5 linked regions of the Homo sapiens genome follow. The protein of the gene in region 4 interacts with the protein of the main gene of each other region in a biochemical or structural test. Each region holds a gene or a part of one and is shown on either strand. Other genes may lie near its edges.

What was found.
Region 1: the proteins of EGLN3 (region 4) and IKBKB form a complex in vitro, tested with the Homo sapiens proteins (one study listed by BioGRID).
Region 2: the proteins of EGLN3 (region 4) and PKM form a complex in vitro, tested with the Homo sapiens proteins (one study listed by BioGRID).
Region 3: of the proteins of EGLN3 (region 4) and SUMO3, one has a biochemical effect on the other in vitro, tested with the Homo sapiens proteins (one study listed by BioGRID).
Region 5: of the proteins of EGLN3 (region 4) and SUMO1, one has a biochemical effect on the other in vitro, tested with the Homo sapiens proteins (one study listed by BioGRID).

The regions. Positions count from the first base shown.
Region 1 is NC_000008.11:42,301,109-42,307,455, reverse strand, and holds part of IKBKB (inhibitor of nuclear factor kappa-B kinase subunit beta), read right to left. Parts: exon of another isoform or gene 6,109-6,347; intron 2,270-6,108; coding exon 2,181-2,269; intron 1,114-2,180; coding exon 1,024-1,113; intron 1-1,023.
Region 2 is NC_000015.10:72,205,645-72,211,991, forward strand, and holds part of PKM (pyruvate kinase PKM), read right to left. Parts: intron 4,835-6,347; coding exon 4,703-4,834; intron 4,216-4,702; coding exon 4,029-4,215; intron 3,248-4,028; coding exon 2,977-3,247; intron 1,634-2,976; coding exon 1,483-1,633; intron 1,237-1,482; coding exon 1,084-1,236; intron 1-1,083. UniProt on the Homo sapiens protein: Catalyzes the final rate-limiting step of glycolysis by mediating the transfer of a phosphoryl group from phosphoenolpyruvate (PEP) to ADP, generating ATP.
Region 3 is NC_000021.9:44,810,496-44,816,842, reverse strand, and holds part of SUMO3 (small ubiquitin-related modifier 3 isoform 1 precursor), read left to right. Parts: intron 1-2,738; coding exon 2,739-2,867; coding exon of another isoform or gene 2,868-2,981; intron 2,982-6,347. UniProt on the Homo sapiens protein: Ubiquitin-like protein which can be covalently attached to target lysines either as a monomer or as a lysine-linked polymer. Does not seem to be involved in protein degradation and may function as an antagonist of ubiquitin in the degradation process.
Region 4 is NC_000014.9:33,925,414-33,931,760, forward strand, and holds part of EGLN3 (prolyl hydroxylase EGLN3), read right to left. Parts: intron 5,803-6,347; coding exon 5,683-5,802; intron 3,800-5,682; coding exon 3,663-3,799; intron 1,621-3,662; coding exon 1,547-1,620; intron 510-1,546; coding exon 478-509; 3' UTR 1-477. UniProt on the Homo sapiens protein: Prolyl hydroxylase that mediates hydroxylation of proline residues in target proteins, such as PKM, TELO2, ATF4 and HIF1A. Target proteins are preferentially recognized via a LXXLAP motif.
Region 5 is NC_000002.12:202,216,478-202,222,824, forward strand, and holds part of SUMO1 (small ubiquitin-related modifier 1 isoform a precursor), read right to left. Parts: intron 3,630-6,347; coding exon 3,555-3,629; intron 1-3,554. UniProt on the Homo sapiens protein: Ubiquitin-like protein that can be covalently attached to proteins as a monomer or a lysine-linked polymer.

The sequences.
Region 1 (6,347 bases), on a different chromosome or scaffold from region 4:
CTCCACACAGTGTCAGGAGTGGGCTTTCCAAAGAGTTGCTCCTTCTCCCACTTAAAACCCATCAATCTCTGCAGAGGTTTTAAGATAAAGTCTAGAACTTTAGCCCAGCCCTGAAGGCCCTTCATAATCTGTGCTCTACCTTGTTCTCAGCTTCAACTCAAGACTCTCTTTCCCTTTTGTGCTCGGTTCCAGCCACACCTGCAGGTCTTCCTGTGTGTGATCCCTTTGCACGGAATTCCCCCTGCCGTCCCCCACCTCCAGCCCTTTTCACCTCCTTACCCTTCAAGTCCCAGACCAGGCTGAGGCCACCCAATATATATTCTTGCAACACCCTGCACTCTTGCTTTGTAACACTCACCACAACTGTAATTTCTTAGTTATCTGTGTAAGCATCACAGTAATGCTTGCTTTCCTGCTAAACCCTAAGCTCTGAAGGCCGAAAAGGGCTTGTCTTTTTTCCCCACTGCATCACCAGCCCTGAGCACAGTGCCTGACACAGACTACACTCCATCAATATGCTTGAATGAATGAGTGACTCAAACAGAAACCTAATATTCAGACCAAATAACGTAAACAAAGGGTGGGGAGCTCAGAGCTCTGACCCCTACTCAGTGGCCCCTGAAATACCTCATGGAAAGTGTGGCCTCGGCCAGGCTCAGTGGCTCCTGCCTGTAGTCCTAGCTGCTCAGGAGGCTGAGGTGGGAGGACCGCTCAAGACCAGCATGGATCTGTTTAAAACCCTTTCCTTTCAGAGAAGACACTGAAGCACAGAGAGGCTAGGGGATGGTGCAAGGCGCATGAGCAGAGCCCTCCGGACATCAGAGAAGACGACCACATCCCTCCACAGGGCATCTGGTGGCAAAAAATGCTGACTCGACCAGGTTATGGGTGTGACCTCATGCATCTCCAAAACATTCAGAGAGCCGGTGGGACTCAGGTGCTGGGAGCAAGGCAGGACAGGAGCCCCACAAATGCAGCAGCAGGGAGGAGCTGACAGGCAAACAGGCAAGGCCCACTTCTTACCAGGTACTGCAGGGTCCCCACGAATGATGTGCAAAGACTGCCCTGATCCAGCTCCTTGGCATATCCTAGGTCAATAATTTTGTGTATTAACTAAAACAAAAGGAAGGAGAAAGCTGAGGGTTATAAGAACACAATGTCCTTCTACGAGGATTCTGACTGCCTGGTGTTAGAGCAGAGGTATTTCTGAATTCCCAGGTACTATTAGATCCCAAACTCCTAAGAGCCACCAGATACACAAAAGAATGCCCTCGACACGGTAGATTCAGGGCTAAAAGAAAAGGCATATTGTAAAAATGCTAGGCACGTGTCCTCCCACACTCTGCCACGCATCATCAGAGGGAAGCTGAATGAACAGAACAGGCACCAGCCCTCAAGACAGCTAAACCCAGACTTGAAACAGGAAGGACCGGGCCAGCCTCTTCTCAGTAAATGCCCTCAGTTCTCAAATCTGAGCACCACTGACAGGAGTGAGGGTGAACTGGAACAAGGGCGAGCCCTGTGGTAGTCACAGGCCAGGCCTAGGTGCTAAGGGCAGCTGTATGGGAAGGGATTAGGTGATCTAAGAACTCATTCACTGTATTCCACTCAGCTGAGCCTGTGCTCACCACCCCAGCTGAACACATAGAGTGGGTGGGTAAAGACCACAATGTCAAGCTTGTGGGGCAGTCAACACCACGTCTGAGCCGGGTGGCCACTGAGGAGGCCACAAAGAGCTCTGGGGAAACTATAGGCTGGACCAGGCTTGGCAGCAGAGGCCAGCTCCCAGTGCCTCTTCCCAGCCACATCCACAACCAACTGACCACTGGTTTCCATTTAGAGTCGAGAGGCGAGGCTCTTAAAGCAAATGGAAAACAAAAAGTCGACTTCCAAGAAGCGCTAGTCCCAGAGGCTAGGGGTGGAGGTAGGAAGGCAAACATTATTTTCCTTATCAGATTCCTGCAACTTGAGCAACTAACAATGTAATCCATTTAAACTTGCCTCAATCTGCAACAACTTTTTTGCTCAATTTTGTTTCAAATCAAACAGCATTCCCAGAGAATCAAAGCACAGGCAAGGAAATGCAAATACACACAAATATGCAGAGTGTGCTCCTTTCCTCCCAGGCCACTTCCCGGCACGCCCACCTGAGGCTTTCCCAGTCCCAGGAGGTCACTTACCCTCTGTTCTCCTTGCTGCAGGACGATGTTTTCTGGCTTTAGATCCCGATGGATGATTCTGTTTTCATGAAGGTATCTAAGCGCAGAGGCTGAGGAAGAGGGGGGTGAGTTTTTCTTAGGCCTAAAAAATGCTTTTCATGACAGAATCTCCTATCCTGCAAAAGATAAATGCCGCATGCCCCTGAAACATACTCTGACTTGTAGCGCAATACCTCAGGGTGGAGGGCAGGGGCCCTGCTACGTGAGGCTTAAACTTCCACAGGAATCTGGCTTACTTGCGCAAAGCACTCTTTGCCTTGCATCCATGAGGTCACCAACTGCAGCCTAGAGCAGTGCTTCTCAAACTATACTACCTGGACCAGCAGCAAACAAGCTTGTTCAAAATGTGAAATTCTCGGGCTCCACCTGAGACCTCTGGATTCAAGTCTCTGGGGATGACCCCACGATCTGTGTTAACAAACTCTCCAGGTGATGCTGACGCCAATAAAGTTTTGAGAAGGGAAGTTTCTTTGGTCTAGAGGCTCAAAAATCTAAATTCTATAGGGTGGGCAAGGAGGAAGGGCCCTTGGGGACAGAGTCCTATGGTCATATGATCGACAGTCCCAAGAGGTCAGAACTGGCTTCCAGGAAGCAGCGGGGAGGCAGAAGAGGAGAACAGGGACACCTCCCACACATACAGACAGCCCTACACAGACTTACTACATGCCCAGTTCTCTGGGAGGTTCTGTGAGGGACATAAAATAAGGGGCATGATCCCCAACTTTAAAGAGCTCAGAATCTAGTTGGAAGAAAGCAGACTGCACAACACTGGCTACGGAAGCATTTGATACCAAGAGCTTCTGCTGTGAGGAGGCAACGTGATGATGTCACATGAGGAGGCACCCGCCTGCAGCTCAGATGGCAAGAAGGACATGATTTTACCCTCAAGAGAGGGTGAATAACTTTGACAGACATCTAGTTCACTGCACTATAAAAGAAAGAAATGAAATAAATAGTACTGAAATGAGATAAAATTATTTTTATTTGGAGATGCTATGACTAGAGATGGAGATAGATTTGGAGATGTAGCCTAGAGAGCTCAACAGACTAAACACTGGATAAAATTTAGCCAGTTGTCTGGAAACGAACAAGAATACACAAGTCAATAGCTTTTCTCTATGTTAGCTATATCCAGTTGCAGTGGAAAGGAAAAAAAATCCCATTCACATTAGCAACAAAAACTCCAAAACACCATGGGATACATGTAGCAAAAAGAGCAGTGTATGCAGGAAAGTCACATGGTATAAATAGAACAGTGCAAATAACATTAAAAGGTTTTCAAAGTTTATGGCAAAAGATACTATAAACAAAGCCAAAAGATAAGAGAGGTGGGGAAACAATATCTACAACACATACACCAAAGAGTAAAGATACCTAATAGATAAAAAGCTCTTATAAATCAATAAGAAAGCAATGCAGAAGAAAAATGGGGCTGGGCGCGGTGGCTCACGCCTGTAATCCCAACACTTTGGGAGGCCAACGTGGGCGAATCACCTGAGGTCAGGAGTTCAAGACCAGCTTGGCCAACATGGTGAGACCCTGTATCTACTAAAAATACAAAAAAATTAGCTGGGTGTGGTGGCATGCCCCTGTAATCCCAGCTACTCGGGAGGCTGAGGCAGGAGAATTGCTTGAACCCAGGAGGCAGAGGTTGCAGTGAGCCGAGATCATGGCCACTGCACTCCAACCTGGGTGACAGAGTAAGACTCTACCTAAAAAAAAAAAGAAAAAGAAAAAGAAAAATGGGCAAAGAATGTCAAGTGGTGAGAAAGCACAGAAGAAGAGATACAAATGGTATCACTTCACTGGTAGCCCAAGGATACTTACTGCATATCTTGAATGAAATAATTAGAAACAGACAGTCATTAGGAAATGTTAGAACAAATTATGGTAGTGCCACATTAGAACAGGCAACTCTTGGGTCTATATTTTCTGACTCAGAGGGATAGTTAATGGTATGACCTGTTTCTTGTTTAAAACTTAAAAAGTCAAAAGCAGTAACATTCAGAGGTTTAACAATGAACCCTCTGTATGCCGTCGCCGCCACCACCATTCTCATTCTCTCTGTTTCTCTCTCATTCTCTCTCTCATTCTCTCTCCTCTCTCTCTCTCTCTCATTCTCTCTCTCTCTCTCTCTCTCTCTCATTCTCTCTCTCTCTCTCTCTCTCTCTCTCTCCCTCTCGGCAAGCCGGGGAGGGGAAGACCCCTGAGGCCCAGGCAGCGATCCTATCTGCTGTCATGGGTACGGCCCTCTGTGCAGGGTAACGGAAAAGCCTTCCACAGAAACTGAGTAAGCAAACATTCTCTGCAAAGACTCTAAGCTGAACATTTGCTGAAAACATATTTAAGAGTCAAACTGAGAGCTGAACAACTGACTTCCACCTTATTAAAGGAGTTCCAGCTCAGAACATTAAGCTATACATGATGAGTATCTCTTATCCAAAATGCTTGGGATCAGTTTTTTTTTTTTTGGATTTTGGAATACTGGCATATTCCTAATGAACCCAAGCTTAAACACAAAATTCATTTGTTTCATATATACCTTATATGAAACAACTGAATTTTTATAAATGATTTTATAGTCTGATGGTAATTTTATACAATAGTCTTAATAATTTTGTGCATGGAACAATGTGTTAAGTACTTAAGTGTGGAATTTTCCACTTCTGGCATCATGTCAGTGTACAAAAACCTTCAGATTTTACAGCCCTTTAGATTTTGGACTTTGGGATTAGGGATGCTCTATCTGTGGTGCCAGATCTCTCCTTGCATCTGCTCTTTTAAGTCCAGCCTTCGACCATGTGGTTCCAACATATCATACTGTTCCTTACTTTTCATTTCCTTCCTAAGTGACAGAGTAGATCAGCTTAGGTCCAATTAATGTCCAGATGAGGTGAAAGACTCGCTGCTTTCCATGTGCCTAAAAAATTATATTTCATCTTGTTCTCAATTGTGTTAATGTTTCAAGACCAATGCTTCTCATCAGCACTTTTATTTTTGTTTTACTTTTATTAAAAATCAAAGCAAATGAAAAAGCATAATAAATTAAATGAAGTATAAAAAATAGCTGCACTAACACAGCCTTGCAGACAGGGATGGCACTGCTGTTGAATATGAACTACTGGCTGGCAGAGAGCAAGGCCATGCAATAACTCAAAGTGTCTGTTAACTGATAGGTTCACAAAAGACCTGTTTTGGTATATGACAGACTGCTGGAGAGTATCAGGATGTAATACATAAAAGTGTAGGTTAGTTTTTTCCAAAGCAGAATATATGGAAGTTGAGATACTGTAATTTGAGCAAGTACACATGCCCAGACTGAGACAAGGCCCCCAGAGCTGGAGGCTAACATCTCAGGGCAAAACCCAGGGCACAACCAGGTGAGATGTCCCCAGAACCCCCCAGTGAAGAGGAGGAGCATTCGGATTAGACCAAAGGCACCGCTCTCTACGCCACGTGGATTAGAGTTGTCACCAGATCTTCAGTGAGGAGGGACAAGAGGTTGGTAACTGAATACTCTGACTACTATTAATATCTGTCTATTTTTATGCTTAAACAACTGTACAAAACAAACTTTATTCCTCATTTCGGGGTGGTCATCTATTCTTCAATACCTCTGTCAACTTAATAAAGTCCAGATTTAAAGAATCCAACAGGTATTGTTACACATAGTTTCTGGGACTGAAATGTAAAAATTCTGATAGGCAAGTCCTCTTAAATGTACCCTGCAGAGAATAAGCTTTCAAAAAGCTTGGTTCAGTATCACTGTGCTACATTTTACAAAACAGTACTTCAGAGCTAAAGTGAAATGAATCAAAATTGTTTCAAGCCCAGAGAATCTAACTTTGTTTAAATTTGATGAAAAATGAGACATTGAGATGAAGAAAAATACTGTTGAATCTGGAAGTTTATTAAAAATCTAAATCCCTGGCAATAGCAGTAAGACATGTTTATAAAAATTAAAAGCCACACCACAAAGCATAAAACTGTACCAGGTAATTTTTCATGTTCCCATTACAGAGAAGAGCTGTGAGAAGCACCACATTGCAAACTATTAAGCTATTCACAACTACACAGTGAGGCCAGGCATGGTGGCTCACACCTGTAATCCCAGCACTTTCGGAGGCC
Region 2 (6,347 bases), on a different chromosome or scaffold from region 4:
TTCTGTTTTTTCTGGTGGCAGGGGGTGGCGTTTTAAACTTGGGGGCTTGGAGGGGCTGAGGTCAAAGGGCAGCGGGTCTTTCACTGGCTAGAAAGGGAATAGAAAGGCTGAAGGAAAACCATATCTGGATAAAGTTTAAGTTCACTGAGCATGACCTAAGACTACTGGGAGAAAGTTAATTTCCAGCACTCATTTTACCAAACCTATGTAACCCTGATCAGGGATCCCTGAGTTAGCTCCAGAGCTGGAACAGACAGGGCAAAGGGACTGAGCCTCCAACCCTGAGCAGTGGCCAGGCACTCGACATGACAAGCTGGAAGAGCCTGAAGAACGAGCTCTCAGAGGAGAAAGAAGGGAAAGAGCCTCCACGACTCCTCCAGACGCTCAGTCCAGGGCCGCCAGGGTCAGCCACCCTCCCCGCTGTCTCTATCTGTGGCCCTGCCACCAGTCACTCAACCCGACTTTTTGGTCTAGAGTAAGAGCAGCAGCTGTACCCCAATGGCACAGCAAAGCAAATCCCCCTACAGGCACCATGCAAGGCCAGCACAGGCAGCTCAGTGAAGGCAACAGACTCCAGTGCAGGTCCACAAGGGCCCCCTGCGGGAGCGCCTGTCTGCAGGATGCGGGGCAGAGGGAACTGAATTGGAAGCCAAAGGAAGAGGGCAGCTGGGAGCAGGAGCCCCTAGCCCTTTTCAGAATAGGGCAAAGGTACTCAGAACTTCTGACTCTGAGGAAGAGGTACAAGACCTCCTTTCACTGCAGAAGTATCCCAGGACTTAAGCCATGGGAAGAATTCACAACCTTGAAGTCAGAAGTGAAATAAACTGTGTGGTGTCCAATGAAGGAGGATGCCTCCAGAGCAGAAGGAAATGGAGGGGTGGGGGTGTGGGCAGGAATGCAGAACAGGAGAAAAAAAAAAGCCACCTCCACTTCCACCCCCACCCTCTTGCTGCTGTAACTTGGAGGATAATGAAAGGCTGTGCATAAGAGGATGGAGAAACCTAAAAAGCTCTGCACCAGAGCTTGCATCCATCCCAGGCCCAGTCCGAAGCCCTGGGGGATGGGGCAGGCCCCAGAACTCACCAGGTGCTGCATGCGCACAGCCTCCAGAGGATAGTCCCCTTTGGCTGTTTCTCCAGACAGCATGATGCAGTCGGCTCCATCCAGGACTGCATTGGCCACATCACTGCCTTCAGCCCGAGTGGGGCGGGGCTTCTTGATCATGCTCTCCAGCATCTGGGAGGGGACAGAGCATTAGTGAGATGTAGCTTGAGCTGTCTTCAGAGACAAATGACAGCAAGCTGATCCTCTGGATAGTGAGTAGGTACACAGAGTATGGCTTTGTGTAGGTACATGGGGGAAGGGGATTATCTGTGTGTTACGTGCGACAATTCCATGGGAAGAGATCAGACAGCCTCCAGAGCTTTCCCATACAAACATGCGAGTGTGCACATGAGAATGTGGGGAAGGGTGGGCACATGCCTGAGTAGCACAGATGACAGGCTTCCCAGCTCGGTTGCACCGTCCAATCATCATCTTCTGAGCAAGGAAGACCTTCTCTGCAGGAATCTCAATGCCTAGATCACCACGAGCCACCATGATCCCATCACTGGCCTCCAGGATTTCATCAAACCTGATGGACAAAGTTGGGGGGAGAGAGGTTATATAGAACAGAGGCCACAAGTATGGCAGTAGACAAGAAGTTTCCCTGGGATTCCCTAACTTAGATGTCCTTGTACCAGGACAGACATCCATGATATCATCATGGGTGCACACAGATGGCAAGGCAGTCCAGCTACCTTAGGCCCCCAGAGTGGGCCAACAATTCTGCCTGCTGGGCTTCAACACCAATATGGATGCTTCATTGACGGAAGAAAGGGGAGAGGGCAAATCCAAATGGGCTCATTCCCAAGGTCTCCTCTCCAAATCCCATGCATGTTAGGGGTCTCTCTAGGGCCTCCATTTTCCAATCAGCACTTCAAGACAGGGAACCTGAGGCCTGATGACTGCTTCCACCACAAAGACCCATGGCCTCATCTAGTCAAGGACACTTGAGGACTGCCCTTTGAGGTGGCCCACTCCAACCTGCTGAAGGCAAGAGGGAATGTGGCTTTGCCTGGCCTAGGGCCAAGTTCAGCTAGCCTATGGCTTATCAGGATGGCAAAGGGGAGGACCCCAAATTGCCTGGTACAGAGGATATCTACACAAAGCTCAGACAGTAAGGCCACTACAGTGGGTGCACAGGGTTGCTCCCCCACCCTCCCCAAACACACTTCTAATCCACAAGAGTGTGTCTAGCATCTTAGTTGTGCTGAGTTGTATTCCTAGCAGGATGCCAAAAATGGTGGCCATGCCCACTGGGCTCTACTTTGTGAGCATTGGGGAGGGGGTAAGCTAAGTTGGGGCAATCTGAAACTGGAGAAGAACCACACATCTTCCTCTGAGAGTGGAATGGACCATACCAGAGTTAGCATGATCACTGAGCCAGCTGCATTCTAAGTGAAGACCAGGAGGCCATAAGCTTTAACATGGACACCAGGCCCTGAAATTCCACATGGCTCCCCAGGAAGGGCCAAAAAGAGCCCTTTCTTAAGTGTCTGCTGTCATCTTTCCCCCTGGTCCCCCCATTCCAGCAAACACTGGTAGTGTTTCTGATCAGGAACAGAACATCATGGCCCCTGGTCCTGTGAGCAGTGACCCTGTTCTCTCAAATGTTGGTCCCCAGGCCCAGGGAACAATGTCAAGCTGCCAGCATCTCAATTACCTGGGAAGCTTTTTTTTAAAAAAAACAAAAAAACAAAAACAAAAAAACATAATGCCTTCTACTCTCCTAAGATATTCTGATTCAGCAGGTTTGGAACTGGCTTGGGAGTCTACATTCTGATGGGCTAGGGGCTGGGAATCAGACATTCACAGGATGGACCATGCCCTTCGGAGAGCTGCGCTGGGACTGGAGCAGGGACAACGGGGACTTGCCTCCGAACCCCCTCATGATTCTCGATTTTGCTGATAATCTTGATGTTCTTTCCCTTCTCTCCCAGGACCTTCCTAACTTCATGGACATCAGATGCCTTGCGGATGAATGACGCAAACACCATATCAACATCCTGCTCGACCCCAAACTTCAGATCCTGGATGTCCTTCTCCGACACAGCAGGCAAGTCCACAGCAGCCCCAGGAAGGTTCACACCCTTCTTGCTGCCCAAGGAGCCACCATTTTCCACCTCCGTCACCAGGAAGTCGGCACCTGTATGAAAAAGGGTAAGTAGGGGAGGCAGAGCACGAGGGCACAGGTCAACAGGAAGCAGGCACCTTTCCCGCAAGGACAGTGAGCTGGGAAGTGGTGCATTATGGGTGCTGGAGCTGTTTTACCAGAGTTGAAAACCTACTACACTGTGTAATCCTGGGCAAGCCATTTAACCTCTCTGTACCTCACTTTCCTCACCCATAAATAAGGATAATTAAGACTGTTCTGACTTTGGGAGGCCAAGGCAGGCAGATCACCTGAGGTCAGGAGTTTGAGACCAGCCTGGCCAACATGGCAAAACGCCATCTCTACTAAAAATACAAAAAAATTAGCCGGGTGTGGTGGCGGGTGCCTGTAATCCCAGCTACTCAGGAGGCTGAGGTAGGAGAATAGCTAGAACTCTGGAGGCAGAGGTTGCAGTGAGCCAAGATCATGCCACTGCACTCCAGCCTGGGCAACAGAGCGAGACTCTGTCTTGAAAACAAAACAAAACACAGCGAAACAAATATATATATATATATATATATATATATATATATATATATATATGTATATATATATATATATGTATGTATGTTCCTGTGTTCTCCAGAACCAGAAGAATGTAACTATGCTGGATTAAAGCCTATCTTTGAGGATAAATGAGTTATAAAAGGGATTCCTGAGAACACACAGACTCAATCTCACTGCCAGGCAACCAACCTTCCCATCTTCCTTGTGTCAAGGAAGTTTAGAGACAAAAGACTGTTTTAGACAACTGGACTCCAGCTCCCATACGTACCTTTCTGCTTCACCTGGAGAGAAATAAGCCCATCATCCACGTAGATCTTGCTGCCCACTTCCACCACCTTGCAGATGTTCTTGTAGTCCAGCCACAGGATGTTCTCGTCACACTTTTCCATGTAGGCGTTATCCAGCGTGATTTTGAGAGTGGCTCCCTTCTTCAGCTCCACCTCTGCAGTGCCGCTCTAGGGACAAGAGAGTAAGCAAGAGTCCAAACTGGAGACACCAGTAGCAGCATCACCTCAGAAGGAATGGAAAAGCTCTTTCCTCCCGGGAACAATGCTCAAGTCACTGCTAAAAGTAATACAGTTTTTTGCTCTTATTCTCTAACTCTGTATACTTCACGGAAATAATCCAAGAAAAGAATATGTTTCAGTTATGCTACTTAATGATGGGGAAAAAGATACAAAGAGATGGTTCTCCAAGTTAGAAAGCCTAAAGTTTAGGTTTTTAGGGTAAAAAAAAAAGGTTCCTTTGTGGTACCATTTCCTAGCAAAGTAGATCAAATCAACATTGTTTACAGTGATGAATAAATCCTCATTTGTAGACCTCAACTCCTCTGCAGTCCTTCATAGTACTGGGAAGAAACATGGCAACCCAGCGCTTTGGAGGACATGTCTCTGGGGCATATTGCCTACTGAGCCTTCCCCTCGCTCTCCGCAGAATACTCACGCCCTTGATGAGCCCAGTTCGGATCTCAGGTCCTTTAGTGTCTAGAGCCACAGCAACGGGCCGGTAGAGGATGGGGTCAGAAGCAAAGCTTTCCGTGGCTGTGCGCACATTCTTGATGGTCTCCGCATGGTACTGGGGGAAAAGAAGGAAGATGACAAGCGTGCTCCCACACTAGAATCCAGCTCCAATTCCCCTGCCCAGGAGCCAAAGCTGATCACTCAGGAAAGGCCCGTGGATGTCTTAGAGCTCTATCTCCATCCTCAGCACGATCCATGCACTGAGAAATCCTCTACCTGCTTAATCCAACCTCCTCAGCCTCCACCCACTTCTACTACAGCACTAATTCACCCAAAGGGCAAATCTTTGAAATGTAGGTGGCAAATTTCAGAATATTGCCACCAAAACCCATTAAGGTATGGGTGCAAACATGTCTCATCATAAAAGCAGCTGTGTCCCCAGGGCTGTTCTTTTTTCCCTAAGACTCATCAAATACCCTCAGCATATAAAGCTCATAAACAGGGCAAAAAGCCTAGGACTTGTGTTTGGATAAGGCTGGTCTGGCAATCAATGTCACATTCTGATATATGTGGTAATGCTGAGAGCTTTTCCTCTATTGATTCCAACTACAACGCAAACTTGAAGTTATTGACTTAAGCTAACAGTGGCCCAAGCTAAATAACTCATTGCTAAGGTCACACAGACCTGATTTTCTCAATCGCTTTGTTTTTTTTTTTTTTGAGACAGAGTCTTGCTCTGTCGCCCAGGCTGGAGTGCAGTGGCACTATCTAGGCTCACTGCAAGCTCCACCTCCCAGGTTCACGCCATTCTCCTGCCTCTCAGCCTCCCGAGTAGCTGGGACTGCAGGCGCCCACCACCACGCCTGGCTAACTTCTTCGATTTTTAGTAGAGACGGGGTTTCACCATGTTAGCCAGGATGGTCTCGATCTCCTGATCTCGTGATCCGCCCACCTCGGCCTCCCAAAGTGCTGGGATTACAGGCGTGAGCCACTGCGCCCGGCCTCAATCACTTTCTAGATTCTGATTGGAGGGGGAAAGGTGGTCATATGCCTTTCTCTAAATGAACTGCCCTTTATTACTCCTTGCTTACAACAAATCCTGGCTTCAATCTTTTTTCTTAAGCCTTTCCTCCTTTCCATTTACCATTTTGTTTGTTTAAAAGAGGGACTCAGGCTAAGCACAGTGGCTCATGCCTATAAACCAAACACTTTGGGAGGCTAAGGTGGGAGGACAGTTTGGGCCAGGAGTTTGAGATGAGCCTGGGCAACATGGCGAAACCTCGTCTCTACAAAAAACACAAAAATTAACTGTGCATGATGGTGCGTGCCTGGGGTCCCAGCTACTTGTGAGGCTGAGGTGGGTTATGTCTAGGAGGTCAAGGCTACAGTGAGCCATGATCACACCACTGCACTCCGGCCTGGATAACAAAGCAACACCCTATCTCAAGAAAAAAAAAAAAAAAAGACGCAGAGCCAAGATGTCAAAAGAGCTCTAAGATAGTGTCATCAATAAGACATTAGCGGTAACAAGGGCACCTAATTCAGCACTTTCTGGGCCTTGTCCTTTAACCACCACTGTCCAGGAAAGTGGCACCTGCAAGTAAGCCTGCCTGTTATTCACAGGAGGC
Region 3 (6,347 bases), on a different chromosome or scaffold from region 4:
TCTCTGCATTGCGCCTCCCCCACCATGCGCGCCCACCCCTCCTTATCCAGCCTTGGGTGGGCTTTAGTCTCCCCCATTGCCATGCTGGGGTGTGCCTCCCTCCAGTCTCAGTCCTGGGGTATGCACCCTGCATTCAGGTGCACTGGCCATTCCTTCTCGGGAGGGTCTGTAGTCGCATTCTCCAGTGTTCATAAAAAGAGAACCTTTCCGAAGCCCTTGGTGTGCACTGTCGGCCTCTATGTTACATCCCAGTGGAAGATGACTAGAGCTGAAGGCTCTGTAAAGAGGCTGTCTCTGATACTGGCCTGGTCCTGGAGGTGACCACCCTCCCTTTACAGATGAGGGTGGAGGCTCAGTGCCAGACACTGGCGGGAAGTGGGATGGAACCGTCAGGAACCATGGTCGCGGCCTCTATGGAAGTCTGCACTCTGCTTGCTGTGGTCAGACTCCAGGGAAACCTGCCCTATCCAGATGGCATTTGGGGTGACCTTTGCTTTTTACATTTTGACTCCAGTGAAGTCAAAGTTCTCCCACTCTGGGGTTGTTTGAATATTTAAATACTTGTTAAAACTAGGTCAAATATAAATGTCCTTTATGTTTTTGTAGGTGGCTTCCTCTTAATGAAGAGTAAATGTAATAAAATACATATGATATTAATTTTCTCAGCAGTATTTACACTTAGCTCTGCCATGTGGTCAATCTCAGGCTCCAGTTCCGTTGAAAACACTTGTTTAATTCCAGAATGACTGAGTGGCTGCCACCTCACAGGCCCCGCTTCTGGTGGGTCCCCTCTGAGCCCATGTGGGAGCAGCTCTGCCCTCTGGGGCTCTGACGAAGGGGAAGAGGTGGACTCTGGGGCCCGGTGGTGCTGGAAAGAAGAGCTTTTAGGTCAGGCAGGAGAATGGTTCTGACTTCCCTGGATAGCTGAGGTGGAGGATTGACTGTAGCAAACTGAGGCCCATGTTTTTAGGGCTTCACTTTTTAACTCACGAGTTCACTTGCTTATTAGGAATTCACCAGGGGTCTGGGACAGATCGTCATTCTGTTTGGAGCAGAGGCACTGTGGCCGGCCCTGCCCTGCCCCAGCCTCTCCCGGGGCTGCAGCCATTCCCCCCGGGGCTGCAGCCATTACCCTGTGGGGGACGTCTGGGCCCTGCATCTGTGCCTTTGAACACACTCATACCTTCCTTCCCTAAAGAAGCCAGTGCATCCTCATGCTTGGGGAAGTGAAGGGGGCTCATGCAGGGGTCCCCACTTCCATCCTGCCTGGAGCTGTTTGCATGCTCTTCCTTCCTAGGCCAGTTGTCTCTGTGCTGGAGGCCACATTCGGGATGGGGAGATGGGGGTGTGCCAGCTCACCACTCAGGCTGCCGCCAAGCCACTGGCATCCCGGGAGTGGGCAGGGGTGTCTGGCCCAAGACTGGAGTCGGGGGGTGAGTGCCGCCCCAGGACACGCACCTTCAGGCTCGCAGCTGGAGCCCCTCACTGCCAAGGCCCCTTGCAGGCCACTCTAGCTCCCTTGACAGAGCACCATGCCTCCCCAGGGTCTCCCCAGGGTGCATACCCCAGGGAAGCAAGCATGGGTGCAGTCCCTGGGTTCACCCTCAGGCGAGCCTTCTACATCCCACTCCCTGTATTTAGGCATCGCTGGGACAGTTGTCCCTCTCCCAGCCAGGGAAGGAAAGGAGAAGTGGAGAGAACAGGCGTGTGATGTACAGTGCTTCCTGAGGGCAGCAGCTCAGCATGGGGTGAAAGGGTACCAGGACGCCCCAGACTTGACTTTCAGAGTGAGCCGGAGGGCCCTGCCTCATTGCTTCACTCACAAACGACTTTATCCCAGCAGTGCAGGCCGGCAGAGGGGTGCCCCACTTTTCGGCTCAGACTGAGCTGCCCCGAAGTTGGCTCCCAGTCTCTTGACATCAGCTTTTTGCCTCAACTCAAAATGCATTTTCAGGCAACAAGACACCCCGATTGTGCCATTGTTGAGTAGCTTCAAGTATGGCATGAATTAAAAAATAAAATAGTACCACCTACTGCCGCTCAGATAGGACAGTTTGAAACCAGAAAGTACTCGGAGGTGGCTTCCCTCACATTTGCTGATGTCAGGGCAGCGAGAAGGAGCCTGGCCGCCTGCTGTGGGGAGTGGCCGTCCTCAGTTGGATTCCCGAAATCACCACTTGAATGTCCCATAGGGTTCCTCTGAGTCACAAATGTTTTCTTCTGTTTTTGGTTTCTTTTACTAGTGCTGTATAGCTGCATGACTTTTGGATATGTGTTTTTACTGGTTTCATAAGAATTTTTTAAAAAAGAGATGGGGTCTTGCTCTGTTGCCCAGACTGGTCTCAAACTCCTGGGCTTACGCCATCCTCCCACGTCAACTCCCAAAGTACTGGGATAACAGGTGTGAGCCACTGTGCCCAGCCCACAAGAATAACTTTAAAATAAAGATGGATTTTCTCTTATTTTTCCCTAGACTTTGTTTTTTTCTTTGAATTAACAATGTCAGAGGACCCTAGGCTTGCATTGTTTTACACATGGATGCTTAACAAGTGGAAGTTAAAAATAAATTCTGTGTAAAAATAAAACCATCACGAGTGACTCTGAATTGCTGGAGAATTTTAAGAATTAGGTTGGTTTTGATGACTTTAAAAAGCCAACAATTACCTAAAGACTTGCCCATTCAAGTCGCGGTTATTTTGAGACACAGTTTTGAGGCCAGTCTCTGGTGTCTTCTGCAGGAGGGTGTGAAGACAGAGAATGACCACATCAACCTGAAGGTGGCCGGGCAGGACGGCTCCGTGGTGCAGTTCAAGATCAAGAGGCACACGCCGCTGAGCAAGCTGATGAAGGCCTACTGCGAGAGGCAGGTGCGGCACCTTGCTCCCCCGCAGAGCCTCCCCGTGTGCGCACTGGTCCTGTGCGTTCCAGGCATCCCCAGAGCACGAGCGTCTCGGGGCTGGACCCAGATGCAGCTGCCCGAGGTGCCCTCTTCGTGGATGGGCAGGCGGGGGCTTGTGCTGTAAAATTAGTCCAGGCTGGGCTTGTCCCCCATGGCCTTTTATAAGGTGGAGGGACCTAGAGGCTCGGAGAAGTGTGGTGGGTTTTTCTTCCTGACAGGGCGGCTGCCCGGGGTGCTGTGTTCTCCATGGGGTACTAACATCTGTGAAGTCTGTGATGCTGAAGGCTCTTGGGGGCCCTGCTCAGGTCTGGCCATTCTGGGGCTGCAGGTGGCGTGTGCCCCACGCCGCTGTCACCCTGTCCTCGCGTATGAGCTGGCCTGACCCTGGAGAGACACTGCCCTCATGTGCGGTGTGGTTTTCCATTTTGTTAGGAAAGGCAAGAAAGCGCGTGATTCTTTCCCCTTCTTCCCCAGTTTCAGGATAATGAGCTGCCCCACTGGCAGTGCCCAGCTGGGTGGATGCCTTCTGGCTGCTGTTTGTGACGTGGTGTGTGTGTGTCTGTTGTTCTTGGTAACGCTGTGGCGGACTCACCCTGGGCCAGGGGGTCCCTCTCTAGGCCACTTTTATGGGCTTTGCCCACCAGCTGCTGCCTGGTGTGTTGGGGGCCCGGCCCTGCAGCCAGGCGCCCTTCCCCAGGGAGCCCTGCTTGCCTGAGTGGGACCTAGAGGCTGCTTTTCTTCAGCCGCTTTGAAAATACAGCAACTCGTTGCCCTTTTATTTTACTCTTTTGCCTGTGGATTTTCAGTTAGATTTCCTCCTCTTTCCCTCCCACTTTGGATACCCTGCTCATAGGGGCAGTCACTGGCGACTGCCTTGCATTCTTTATTGGCAAGCAGCCCCTGACTTCCTTTCTTTGTGTTTGCTGAGGGCAGATCTTATTTTCACCTGCGAAAGGTGAGACTGAGCTTCCAGACACGCAGGTCCCGGTCTTCCCAGCAGAGTGAGTGGCCTGGCGCCGTGTAGGCCCCGTGATCCAGCCTCTGCCTGATGCTGGGCCCTGGCCCTTGCTGGAGTTTGTACTGCCTGGGCTCGTGGCCACTGTGTGTGTGACTTCCCGGGTGCCCATGTTCTCCTCTGCGCTGCGGGATGGCAGGCGTGTGGGGCCGTGTACATGTGGGGGGGGCTCTGCCCTTCCCCCTGCTCTCCCGGAGCTCCCCTCCTGCCCCACCTGCACTGCTGCTTGTGAGGCTGGCTGCTCAGCCGTGGTCCAGGGCCTCCTGTTCAAATCCTTCTAGAAACTTGGGTTCTCTCTTGGGTGTTTCCTGGATTAGTCCTCCTCCCTTTTGTGTTTTGTGGTGGAGCACATCCTCCAGGGTCTTGTCAGAACGGGCACAGAAGGGCAGCGTCTTTGAGACACTGCATGGCTGAACGTGACTTTTGCTTTTATAAACCTTCACACTTCAGTATGTGGCTGCACGTAATATTCTCGGTTGAAACTTTTTTTTCTTTTTTATTTCAGAGGTCAGCCATGAGAATAGCTCCCAATGTTAAAAGTGAAAAGTTCACCAGGCATGGTGGCTTATGCCTGTAATCCCAGCACTTTGGGAGGCTGATGTGGGAGGATCACTTGAGGTCAGGAATTCAAGACTTGAGGTCAGGAGTTCAGTGCCAAGCCTGGGCAACACAGGGAGACCCTGTCTCTACGAAACATTAAAAAAATTAGCCAGGTGTGGTGGTGCAAGCCTATAGTCCCAGCTACTCAGGAGGCTGAGGTGGGAGGATTGTTTGAGCCCAGGAGGTGGAGGCTGCAGGGAGCTGAGGTCATATCACTGCTCCAGCCTGGGTGACAGAGCAAGACCCTGTCTCAAAAAAAAAAAAAAAAAAAAAAAGGTGAGAAGTTCAGTGGATTCTGATTCTCTGTGCTTTGTTTGTAACTTGGTTTTTCCCTGGAAGTATCTGGGACCATATTCTGGCATTCAGTGTTTCCTTATGTGCCTCAGAGGTGGGTGATTTTCTCACTCATGCTGCTGGGCACTTTATGGGTCTGGACGTTTATTTTTATTCAGGAAATATGCCTTATGTTAGTTCTCTGATAATTTGTATCCTTCTCCAGACTCTGTTCCCTCTTTTTGGAGTTCCTGTTCCTCCTGCTGCTCATTGTCCTAGATATTTTAAATTTGATAATTTTTCTCCCATTTTGCTTTGGGCTTTATTGTTGCATTTGGGCTTCTTTCCGGGAGGTCATTTCAACTTTATCTTTCCACTTCCTGTGGACATTCTCATCTCTGTCATGATTTTTAATTTCCAAAAGTTCTTTTTTCTTTCTGTTCTTTGAGTGTTCTTTTTTTCTCAGTAGCAACTTATTTTTTTTGAGACAGGGTCTCACTCTGTCCCCCAAGCTGGAGCGCAGTGGTGTGATCATGGTTCACTGCAGCCTTGAGCCCTGGGGCTCAAGTGATCCTCCCACCTCAGCCTCCCGAGTAGGTGGGACTCCAGGTACACGCCACCACGCCTGGCTCATTTTTTTATTTTGTGGAGATGGGGTCTCCTTATGTGGTCCAGGCTGGTCTGGAATTCCTGGGCTTAAGTGATCCTTCTGCCTCGGTCTCCCAAAGTGCTGGGATTACAGGTGTGAGCCACCGCACCCATCCTCAGTAGCAATTGATTGTTTTCTGAAGGTAGTAGTATTTTTTACTTCCCATAGAATTTGAATCGTGAGTGTAGGTGTGTGTGGTGTGTATGTCCGTGTCTTTGTGCATGTGTGTGTATGTGTGGGTGTGTGCCTGTGTGTGTATGTGTGGGTGTGTGCCTGTGTGTATATGTGGGTGTGTGCATGTGTGTGTATGTGGGTGTGTGCATGTGTGCATTCGTGTGTGTGTATGTGTGGGTGTGTGCGTGTGTGTATGTGGGTGTGTGCGTGTGTGCATATGTGGGTGTGTGCATGTGTGGGTGTGTGCATGGGTGTGTGCATGGGTGTGCATGTGTGGGTGTGTGCATGTGTGTGGGTGTGGGCATGTGTGGGTGTGGGCATGTGTGTGCCTGTGTTGGGAGTGTTCTCCTGCCTCCTTCCTGTCCGTTCTCCTCTGCGCTCCTCCCCTCCTCTCTAGGCTGCTGCACAGTGAGCCTTTCCCTGACTGCTCTCACGCAGGCTGACTTCTGTGCAAGCATGGAGCACCGAGAAGCTGCTGAAAAGCTGTGTACATGGATGGCTGTGCTGCCAGGGCTGTGCATCCACATGGGGTGATCTGTCTGGATTGCAGGTTCTGGAGGCGCCCAGATGCTACAGTTTGAGAGTTGAGTCCTCCAGGCTCCGGCCAGCCTCCTGGAGGCGCATCTGGAGGGGAGAGGGGACTTGGCGCACAGTGTTGAGGGCACGCGCTTTCGTGGGCCTGTTTCCGCCCTGCGCCTGGAGCTCCGCACCCACCTTCTCAGAAAGCACATCTCATG
Region 4 (6,347 bases):
ATTAAGAACATCTGGAAATTGTTCAGATGACACAAATTTCTCTGTTTCCTGCTGTTAAGGCTTCCGTGATGCCTCTCTGTGGCATCTACCACCTCCATTTTTTTCTTTTCAAACCTCCTCCTTTCAAATCAGGAAGTATACATAAAGTGCAAGTAAGGTTCATTCCCTCGCTGTGCTCCTAGGCTCTTCTCTTGATAGTATTACCGAATCTATCAGGTAAACCGCTGGCCGAGTAGGATGTCTGCAGGAATTTCTGGAGTTAGCAAGTAACTTCATCTGGCAAAGAGAGTATCTGAAGATCAACACAGTCTTGGCAAGAAAACATGAAGTACCACACACAAGACAGGGATGTGAAGGATGCAAGAAGTAGCAGGGAGATTGTTGTCACTGAAGAGGCCATCTTTGGATCTCAAAGAATTTAAGAGAATTCAGGAACCGTTACTAAAATGAACAAGGCCAGCAGATTTCAGAGCACGGTCAGTCTTCAGTGAGGGCAGATTCAGTTTTCCCTGGGTTGGGGACAGAAAGGAGAATAAAGAGGGTATGGAGTCAGCTCTGATGAGTTTTATGTCACAAATGTCACCAAAAAGCCTCCAGTAAACACTTCCCATCTTATATAAGCCTCCTAATAGAGCTCTGCCAAAGGATTCTCTCTTGACTTTGCAATGGGATCTTTCCCATATGCCTCACAGACTGTGGAGGAACTTTGGGTTTACATCCAGCATTGGCACCTCTTGGGCTAATGCTGAGCATAAGTTGTATGAAGTGTAGCCTCACTCACATATCAGAGTTAAGCAGTGTAGGCCATCTGGAAGAGAAAACAAACTGAGATTTCCTGGGTGCAATTTGGAGACCACTTTGGTATTTGAGAGGTATACAGTCCAAATGGGTTATGGGCTAGGCAATATTATATATGTTTCCTTACTGCAGGATCTCTTAGCGCCTTAATTTAATATGCTAGTGAGCAATGTGACTCTTTTTAAGACAGGCATACAGCATGCAACATTTCCCACATTTTTGGGACCAGGAATTTACCAAATTGGCAGGATTTGTGTTTTAATGCAACGTATTTTGGGAAATGCTGCCTTCTAATACTGGTTGGAAGGGATAGGAGTAGTGCTGTTATATTCAGTTTATATTACATGAGCCCTGCTGTTATACTGAGAGTCACAGTCTCACCCAATATAATAAATTTTGCCATCATAACTGGGTTCCATTATATTTCCTTTGCAATATGCCAAAAATCATGGGCAAAATTTAATGTTACATTTGACTGGTTAACATTAATAGGAAAAAGTTAACTATTTCCCATCTATCATAAACCATCATACATTCAGTGGGCATTCTCAGGGGAAGCCCCTTGCATTGTTTCTGATTTTTCTAAGAGCCCTAAGGCCAAGGTTTCAGGATAAAACCCATCAAGATGTCATTATATATAAAGCTAAGCCGTAACAGATTGAACAGAACATGTTTAAAACTACATAAAATTGAATAAAAGTCAAGGATTAACTTGATCAAAAGTCACAGAAAATTATCAAACACATACTAGTTAAATTCCTGAATTTCTTTTTGGCTTCTGCCCTTTCTTCAGCATCAAAGTACCAGACAGTCATAGCATATCTGTGAAAGATAAGCAGATATAAGGAAAGAGATTTAATGGTACTACTAGAAACACAAATGTCCTATAAATCTCACATTAAAAGTTTTAAAGTTTTCTCTATTATTAGAAGTCTACCCTGATTTATTTATTTATTTATTTATTTATTTATTTATTTATTTTTTGAGATGGAGTCTTGCTCTGTTGCCAGGCAGAGGCGTGATCTCGGCTCACTGCAACCTCCACTTCCCAGGTTCAAGCGATTCTCCTGCCTCAGCTTCCCAAGTAGCTGGGACTACAGGTGCACGCTACCACACCCAGCTAATTTTTAAATTTTTAGTAGAGATGGGGTTTCACCATGTTGGCCAGGATGGTCTCGATCTCTTGACCTGCCCACCTCGGCCTCCCAAAGTGCTGGGATTGCAGGTGTGAGCCACCATGCCCGGCCTGTCTACGCTGATTTTAATTTAAAATTAACTTCTCTGGTTTTAATTCTATTTCAATGTAATAAAATGCATAAGGAATTCCAGGTATGTGCCAGAAATTATCTTGGGCATTAGGAATTCAAATGACCCTGTGATCAGATCTTCCTCTGCGATCTCAGGCTCCAAGTAGGGGAGACAGGTGATTTTGCAATAATGCAACAGGTAAACATAGCCTCTACAGAAAGGACTAGAAGGGAGTCATTCTGCTAAAGACTGGGAGACCCAAGTTGGTGGCGAGAACATAGAGAAGAGATGACATTTGAGTGAAGCTTTGAAAAACGACTTATGTAAATCACAGTATGTTTAAAACTCTTGGCTTGCTTTCTTTAGTTTTGGACATTGAGGCAAAATTGCAATTGAATAATAATAATGCCCCAGAGCTTTCTACTGCATCCCCACTAATTTGCTTTATCCCATTCATTGGATAGACTGTAATGGGAGCCATTTCATGCTTGGTTTTTTTTTAAAGTTTCATTTTGTAATGATTGTTAGCTACTTCCGTAGCTAACAATTTCTATAGCACTTGAGTTTTTTTCAAGGGACTTCTCATCAACATTTGCTAATGTTTTCCCTGTAAGGCCAGTCATCATGAGATTGGGGAATAACCAAAGACTTCTGCCACAAACAACAGGGTTTAGTTACATACCCCATAAAACACAAAAGCTGACTTCAGTGGTAGAATTCGTTCCCTGCTCATCTAGAAGACATTCCGATTTGGCAGTTAATATATAACTGGGTTTGGGGCTAAGCTGTGTGACTTCCGGAGGAGGGCACATGTGATCTTAATTTAATTAGGCTTGTTAGGGTTTAATCATCATCCTACCAAAATTCTCTCCTCCTGCCCCTGAATGCTAGTCTCAGTATAAGCTGCACTCCATAGCCCTCCAATGCTGCCCGGCTTATTGCTTTAGACACAGACAAAGGTAAATGAGAGGCAGAATTGAGAATGAAGATTTTTTGTCAAGATTGTCTAGATTGGTCCTAAACAATACTAAGGTGTTCAGTTACTCTGAGAATCTTCATGTGCACATGATAAAGAAAAGATTAATAAAACATCCAACTGTTGGACCATGGATACAGCAAGCCCAAGCCAATTTCAAACCAAGGAAAAGACAAAAAGAGAAAGTCAAAACAAATTACTCTTTCTCTTCTCAAGGCTCTTTCTCTGCTTGCAATTAGCAGCTTGTAAACTCATCCAAAGTAACCAGACAGAATTCCTGATATGTGACAGCCAACATTCTCTAGGCATAGTTCAACATTAGGTTTTTTAAAAAAAGGGAAAGAGAGATAAGAGAAGGGAGGAAAGGAGAGAAGAGAAAAATACTTTTGAGAAATTGGAATCCAATATGCTCATCTAATAGAAAACAACTTGTTAATAGTACTTTCAAACTGAGGTTAGGTTTGATATGCTAAAGAACGCAAAGTTTCCCCTTTAATTTTTGTAGACTCCAAACAAGTTTGCTATCAGCTATGGGGTGTGGTCAATCCCCCACATGCACAGGACACACGTTTAAAGAGTTCTCTGGAACTAGGGTTTGTACACCAAGCTCCGGAAGAGGAATCATGGCTCCGGCTATTACCTGGTTGCGTAAGAGGGCTGCACTTCGTGTGGGTTCCTACGATCTGACCAGAAGAACAGGAGTCTGTCAAAAATGGGCTCCACATCTGCTATGAATGATTTCCCCTCTGGAAATATCCGCAGGATCCCACCATGTAGCTGAAAGACACAAAGAAGGGGGATTATTTCTTACCTCTCATGTAGTTTATCAACAACCATATTTCAGCTCCATTTAGAAACATGCCATCTGCTAACCACCACTCCAAATGCATGGTACCCCAGATTTTTACTTCAACCTCATAGTTTGTACCAATTTGAGATGGAGTTTCACTCTTGTTGCCCAGGCTGGAGTGCAATGGCACGATCTCGTTTCACTGCCACTTCCACCTCCCTGGTTCAAGTGATTCTCTTGCCTCAGCCTCCCGAGTAGCTGGGATTAGAGGCATGCACCACCATGCCCAGTTAATTTTGTATTTTTAGTAGAGACGGGGTTTCCCCATGTTGGTCAGGCTGGTCTCGAACTCCCGACCTCAGGTGATCCGCCCACTAGGGCCTCCTGAAGTGCTGGGATTATAGGCATGAGCCACCACGCCCAGCCACTTCGTACCAAATTTTATATCAAACTTAGCTAGAGATATCTCCTTATTCACCTTAAACCAAAAAAAGCACTCCCACCCCCCACAGTCATAAAGCCCATGGACGTAAAATAGAGTACTATTAGATTGAATCATACCGATTTGCCAATATTTGAGTGTTTTTGACTTAAAAAAAAATGCCCAGTGATCTCACATGGTTCCATCTAACCATTAACAACTTTCTAAGAAAATCATCACATGTAACTTCCCCTTCAATTAGAATTTACAGCTCTTCTGAACTCCCTTAGCTCCTATCTGACCTCATTAGTTGGAAGTTACATGCTCTTTTTACTGAACTCTCAGACCACCTAATCTGCACCTTTTATGACATACACCACTCTCTTCCTTGAATTATTTTTTTTACATGTCAACCTATTTCATCCTACTAGAATAACCATATTCAGAGTAAAGTTCAGGCCTCACACATCAATGTTTCTTCATAATACAACGCCTGACACTAGCAGGAACTCAAATATTTGTTAAATGATTCCAGACCTTGCAATTTATTATTACCAGTCTGATAACTTTATTCTCTTGTCTCTATCAGCACCTCTCAAGATTTTAAAGGAGACTTAATGGATGTATTCCAGTCATGTTACCAAACAGGGAGAAGAGATAGGCCTTTTCACTGATTCAATGGTTTCCCAAGTTTCGTTTTTCTGACTCTGGATAAATATTATTGCTTTATGACAGCCAGTATTTGCCTAATGAACAGGAAATTGAGATGCAGAAGGTTCAAAAGCCAAATAAGCTTGAAAAGTTATCTGACTTCCCAGACTCCTAAATCATTCTTAACTTTCGGAAAGCATACAGAGTCCAGATGAATGTCTGTAAGCATGGAACCAGGCTTCATATCTCCATCTATCTATAAGTTCTATAATACAAAAATAAGCCACAAAGCCTTTGGCATTCACAAACCATAGTAAGCCATGGCAAGCAGCCATCAATGAGACATACCACCCCGAGGGAGAGGACTGTGTGGGAAATCTCTCTTGGGGATGGTTTTATAGCCTACAGTTCTATTTTTGTGGAACTTTCTCAATGCTGCTGCTGGGAGGGAAAAGTGTATATCCTATTCTGCATTGAGTCAGAACAACTCTGAATTAAACTGAAAAAAATTAATCCTTAATCCTAATATCAAATTACCTTCCCTTCATCAACCACCCTTCCCAGAGGTAGGGTTAATAATCACCCTACCTACCCCACTCCAAATTAACTTCATTGTTTTCTTCTTAACAACTTTAGGACTAATTCCATTGTCGCAGGAGGTTATGAAATGGAAATAGAAATGTTTCATCAGTGGGAGATACGGCAACTATGAACTCAATATAAACTCTCCTCTAAGTTATCTGAATCATTTTCCTGTAGTTTCTAACCCCACACTCTACTCCCATTATTCAAAAGTACCTTGGCATCCCAATTCTTGTTCAGATAGTAGATGCAGGTGATGCAGCGACCATCACCGTTGGGGTTGTCCACGTGGCGAACATAACCTGTTCCATTTCCCGGATAGCAAGCCACCATTGCCTATGGAGAAATCCCAAGAAAGCTGGTTAACAAAGCTGAGACAGACAATCTTCTCCTCCCACTGGTGAGCAGATAAGTAACACAGTCTCCTTGGGTGTTACGTGACATTTACAGGTAGTTGCTGGCTTCTTAATTTCATGTATGGTACATAAATTTGGACTCTTCTGTGCACAATGGCCAGGTCATACTATGGCTCTGCCCAGTGGAAAGTAGTTCAACAATATTCCCACAGTTCTAGAACATTTTACACAGTCTTTCTTAAAGTAACCTATCTGCATGCCCTGTTTGCATAACCTGTTTGTATGCCCTGCCTTTCTTCAATACTCCTTTTTGGAAAAGCAGTTTCTAGTTTCCCATGCTACAAAATCAGAGTCACTAGGTGTGGAGTTTAGGGATTATGACTGTTTAGCAAGTGCTGCTGAATCACTCACACTGTTTCAGAACAATGGCTAAAGGTATTTGCATACACAAAGTGACAGAACTAATCACCAAAGGAGGAAAAGGTCAGGCTTACTCAATAAAATGCTCAGGATAGAAAGAATAGA
Region 5 (6,347 bases), on a different chromosome or scaffold from region 4:
AAATCCCACAAATTAATAATTCTTAAAAAGACATTCCATGGCATATGGACATATAGATAGATCAATGGCATAAAATTGAGAGCCAAGAAAAAACCCTTATATCTATAGTCAATTTTTTGACAAGGATACCAGAACAATTCAGTGAGAAAAGGACAGTCTTTTCAACTAATGGTCTGGGACAAACACCCATAAAAAATTATTCAAAATGATGAAAGATTTAAATGTAAGAGCTAAAACTATAAATAAAACCATAAAACTTTTTTTTTTTTTTTTTTGAGACAGGGTCTCACTCTGTCACCCAGACTGGAGTACAGTCACGTGATCACAGCTTACTGCAGCCTTGACCTCCCAGGCTCAAGTGATTCTCCCTGCTCAGCCTCCTGAGTAGCTGGGACTACAGGCATGTGCCACCACGCCCTACTAATTTTTTATATTTTTTGTAGAGATGGGGTTTCGCCATGTTGCCCAGGCTGGTCTCCAGCTCCTGAGCTCAAGCAATCTGCCCACCTTGGCCTCCCAAAATGCTGAGATTACAGGTGTGAGCCATTGTGCCCAGCCTTAAAACTCTTAAACCACAAGCGTAAACCTTTGTGACCCTGGATTAGGTAATGGTTTCTTAGATAAATTACAAGCAACAAAAGAAAAAACAGATGAACTTAATTTACCAAAATTAAAAACTTTACGCTGCAAAGAATAAAACCAAGAAAGTGAAAAGACAACTCAAAGATAGGAGAAAATCCATGCAAATCATATATATGATAAAGGTCTAATACCCAGAATAAAAGACATATTACCACTCAACAATAAAAAGACAACTAACCCAATTTAAAAATGGGCAAAAGATCTAAAGAACTTCATTTTTCCAAAGAAGATGTACTAATGGCCAATAAGTACATAAAAAAATGCTTGGCATCATTAGCCATCAGGAAAGAGCAAGTTGAAACCACAGTGAGATACCACTTCACACCCACTAGGATTATAACCAAAAATACGGATAATTACAAGTGTTGACCAGAATATGGAAAAACTGAAACCCTCATATGTTGCTGCTAGGAATGTAAGATGGTAGGGCCACTGCTGAAAACAGTTTGGCAGTTCCTCAAAAAGTAAAACATATAGTTGCATACTAGACCCAGCAATTCCACTCCTAGGTATATATCCAAGGGAGCTGAAAACATATGTCCATACAAAAACACACATGAATGTTCACAGCAACATTATTAATAGTAGCCAAAATATGGGGACAAACTAAATATCAACTGATAAATGGAAAACAAAATATATTCTACCCATATAATGGAACAGAATTCAGCCATTAAAAGGAATATAGTACTGATACATGCTACAGCATGAATGAACCTTGAAAACATGCTAAAACAAAGAAGCCAGGCCAGGCATAGTGGCTCACACCTATAATCCCAGAACTTTAGGCCAAAGAGGGAGAATCACTTAAGCCCAAGAGTTCAAGACCAGCCTGAGCAACATAGCGAGAACCCTGGAGAGGGAGACGGGGATGGGGAGGGGGGGAGGGGAGGGAGGGGAAGAGGAACAGGGAAGCAAGGCAGAAAAGAAGAAACAAACCAGAATAAAAAGTCACATATCAAAGCTAGGCATGGTGGCTCATGCCTGTAATCCCAACACTGTGGGAGGCCGAGGTAGGCGGATCATCTGAGGTCAGGAGTTTGAGACCAGCCTGGCCAACATGGCGAAACCCCATCTCTACTAAAAATACAAAAATTAGCTGGGCATGGTGGTGCACACCTGAAATCCCAGCTACTCAGGAGGCTATGGCAGGAGGGTCGCTTGAACCCAGGAGGTTGAGGTCGCAGTGAGTTGAGATCAGGCCACTGCACTCCAGCCTGGGTGACACAGCGAGACCCTTGCCTCAAAAAAAAAAAAAAAAAAAAAAAGCCATATATCTTATGATTCCATTTATATGTAATGTCCACAAAAGGCAAACCTATAGAGACAGAAAGTAGAATCATGGTTGTCACTGGCTGGAGGAAATAGGATGGGGAATGACTGCTAATGGGTACAGGGTGTCTTTTTGGGGTAATGCAAATGTTCTGGAATTAGTAGTGGTGATGGCTGCACACACTTGTGAATAATACTAAAGCCCCTGAATTATATACTTTAAAATAGTGAATTTTATAGTATGTGAATTTTATCTTTTAAAAGTTTTCAAAATAAAGCCGGCATGGTGGCTCACACCTGTAATCCCAGAACTCTGGGAGGCCGAGACGGGTGGGGATCACCTGAGGTCAGGAGTTCGAGACCAGCCTGGCCAACATGGGGAAACCCCGTCTCTACTAAAAATATTTTTTAAAAAAATTAGTCAGGCTTCGTGGCAGGCACCTGTAGTCCCAGCTACTCGGGAGGCTGAGGCAGGAGAATCACCTGAACCCAGGAGTGAAGGGTGCAGTGAGCCAAGATCACGCCATTGCACTCCAGCCTGCCAACAAGAGCACAACTCCATTTCAAAATAAAATTTAAATTTAAAAAATTTTGAAAATAAAAAATAAAAGTCTTCAAAATAAGATAATCACAGAAAAATGGGAAAAGGGTATGAACACAATTAACAGAAGAATATAAATGTAACAGACCAAAAAAATTATACCTTATTAATAATCAGGTAAATGAAAAATAAACAAAAATGTTTTACCTAGCATATTTGAACAAAATTTAAAGACTGTTAATATCCCATGTTTGGGAGAATATAGGGAAATGGTACTGTCACACTTCAATAGAAATACCACTGCACTCCATCCTGGGCGAGTCCACCCTTCCACCAATTCTCTGTCTTTTGTCCTTTAGAAAACCCACGTAACTATGTAGATTCATTCCTCCAACGGTTGTTAGCTAACCTTAATTAACATTTCAGAATCAATAAGATACAGACTAGAGCCAGGCGCGGTGGCTCACGCCTGTAATCCCAGCACTTTGGGAGGCCGAGGCTGGCGGATCACGAGGCCAGGAGATCAAGACCACCCTGGCTAACACAGTGAAACCCCGTCTCTACTAAAAATACAAAAAAAATTAGCCGGGCATGGTGGCGGGCGCCTGTAGTCCCAGCTACTTGGGAGGCTGAGGCAGGAGAATGGCGTGAACCCGGCAGGCGGAGCTTGCAGTGAGCCGAGATCGCACCACTGCACTCCAGCCTGGGTGACAGAACAAGACTCCATCTCAAAAAAAAAAAAGATACAGACTAGAGTCTAGGGAAATAGGGGGCCAGAAAAGGGTCAGGAAAAGGGCTGATAAACCTTTTACTTAAGGTTGGCCCTAGCCTTAACACTTAATAGTATTCACTGTATTTGCCCCTGAAGCACACTAACCAAGAAAACATTCCTATTTGGAAAAATTAAGATGATCTAAAACTGCCTGGCAGAGTAATTTAAAAAACAGTATCGGCCTCTTCTACCTCTAACAGATGCATACACAGTAAATTAAAATGCATACATAGTCATTTTAAAATAATTTGCCTTAAATAATTTTTTTTCCTGTGAAAAAGTATTCACATTGAAGGGGACTCAAAAGAGAAAAACAATGAAACTCACCTGTCCAATGACTTTGAGTTTAATATATTCACCTTCCTTCTTATCCCCCAAGTCCTCAGTTGAAGGTTTTGCCTCCTGAAAGAAAATTAAATTTCAAGATAAAAGTTCCTACATGCTATTTTAATTACTCACTTATGAGTATCCATTACTTTCATTCAGGATGCAAAATCTGCACCTGAGAATACAAACAGCATTTCTTTTCCATGCCAGTCAATTAAGAAAAAAAAATCCTAAGTCAATTACTGTCCCAAACGCCATTCACTAGAAATCAAGAAAGGGGTCTCTTTTATTATAATACCCCATAGTAATGGTCTAAAACTTTACCACGCATCAAAATCAGCTGAAGGACGTGTTAAACAAACTGCTGGGCCCAAGACCCAGTTTCTTATTCAGCACATTTGTAGTAGGGATAAGAATCTCTTTCTAACAAATTACCAGGTGGTACCGATACTACTGGCCAGAGGAACAACTTGGAAACAACTGCCCTACAGCCAGCTCTTACCAGCACAAAGGAAGTTCATCCTCCATGAATTTTTAGACAAACTTCTGAATCCAAGATTATCTTCTCACAGCCTATCATGAGGAGTTTACTTTAACTACAAAACTGTACTAAGAAATGTAAATTAATCATATTAGCATAAGCAAGGCTATTATTTATTATTTTTTTGAGACAGTTTCGCTCTTGTTGCCCAGGCTGGAGTGCAATGGCTCGATCTCAGCTCACCGCAACCTCTGCCTCCCAGGTTCAAGCAATTCTCCTGCCTCAGACTCCCGAGTAGCTGGGACTACAGGCATGCACCACCATACCCGGCTAATTTTGTATTTTTAGTAGAGACAGGGTTTCTCCATGTTGGTCAGGCTGGTCTCAAACTCCCGACCTCAGGTGATCTGCCCACCTCGGCCTCCCAAAGTGCTGGGATTACAGGCGTGAGCCACAGTGCCCAGCCAAGCAAGGCTATTTAGAAAGGAAAATCAAATAAGAAAGTATTAGCCTAATGTACTCTGGAGTCAAAACGAATCAGTTTTATATAATCAATTATTTTAGACTATCCGAAGCATAATGCTTAAGTTTAAAAGAGGAGACAAAAATAGGAGGACAAGATACTTGAGAGGCTGTGGCACTAGGACTGCTTGAGAGCCCAGGAGTTGGAGGCCAGCCTGGACAACATAGCAAGACCTCATCTCTTCAAAAAAAAAAAAAAAAAGATCACAAAAACAGTTACAAAACAATTTCCAATAAAGAGATACTGAAATGAAAATGAGGTTAACAGAATAAATTAGTTAAAACAACTTCACCATGAAGTATCTCAAGAATAAGCAAATCATTTTTAGTAAAGGGGGTACCTTGGAAAATTTCATGAATAATGTGGTAAAAAAGTAGCTTTTTTTCTCTATGTGCTACACCTTAGTTTGGCCACCAAATTACCCACTTATTTAGATATATACCTTATTATCCGTAATAATTTCAAGCAGTTAATCCGTATTTGATAAGAATAACCATAACCATTACCTGTGTATCTCATGCCAGTAACTTAAAATACAAAATTCTTTAACATTCAACAATTAAAAGAACATATTAAACTAGAAGCAGCTTTTAACTTTAAAATACAGGCTAGAGTCTAGGGAAATGCTTAGATAACAGAACTGATTTCATTAGTATGAATCCTTGCCTGTTTTTCATTCTGCAGTGCTTTTAACATTTGCTGACTACTGACTATTACAGCAGCAGGCAAAATTAACCTTCTTTAGTGAGACAGTATTTCACCTGAAAACTAGAAGACTGTCTTCAAATATAGTCTCTCCACATTTCTATGAATTTATATTCATAGTAAACAGCTGCTTCTTCCTCTAAGTATCTAGAAGGCAAAGAGCTTATTCCATGCAGTGAAGGGCAATAAACAGCAACCAAGCCCTGAGTCCTCTGTAACTGGAAGGAGAGGAGGCCTTAAGAAGCTTTGTTTAAGTTACCACAAAGGACAGCCCCCTCCCCTAGCAGCAATATATCAGCACAACATGAGTGGCTTTGCTCCTGTGTCTCCTAGATAGGGTAGCTATAGCGGCTACTCAGCACAAAAGAATTCTTCCCCTCCTCCCCTCCATCATCCTCAGTGCTTCAGAATTCTCCTAAAGTCCAGCTTCTCCAATCCTGTAACTACTCAGATCAAAAAGCATAAATACCTTCCAGGACTTTAGGGCCTATAACCTAACTCTATAGCATGACATTCTCTGCTTCCACCATCAAGCTCAATTCTCATTTTTCTCTCATCATTCACTCAACATACCCAAAGATTCTGTTCAATTGGACTATTTGCTGTTCCCTGAATATGTCCATTAGCATTACTTCAACTTCAGCCCTTTGCGGCCCTAGTTTCATTTACCTGGAATATATATACATATCCTCTCTCAGCCTCTCTTGAAATCACCTCAAGGATATCTACCTCACACATGAACTTAAGTTCAGTATTTTTTTTTCTTTTCTTTTTTTTTTTTTTTGAGACAGATTTTCGCTCTTGTTGCCCAGGCTGGAATGCAATGGCACAATCTTGGTTCACTGCAACCTCTGCCTCCTGGGTTCAAGCGATTCTCCTGCCTCAGCCTCCCAAGTAGCTGGGATTACAGGAGTGTGCCACCACGCCCGGCTAATTTTTGTATTTTCAGTAAAGATGGGGTTTCCCTATGTTGGCCAGGCTGGTCTCGAACTCCTGACCTCAGGTGATCCACCCACCTCAGCCTCCCAAAGTGCTGGGATTACAGGCTTGAGCCACTACGCCCGGCCTGCTTTTTTTTTTTTCT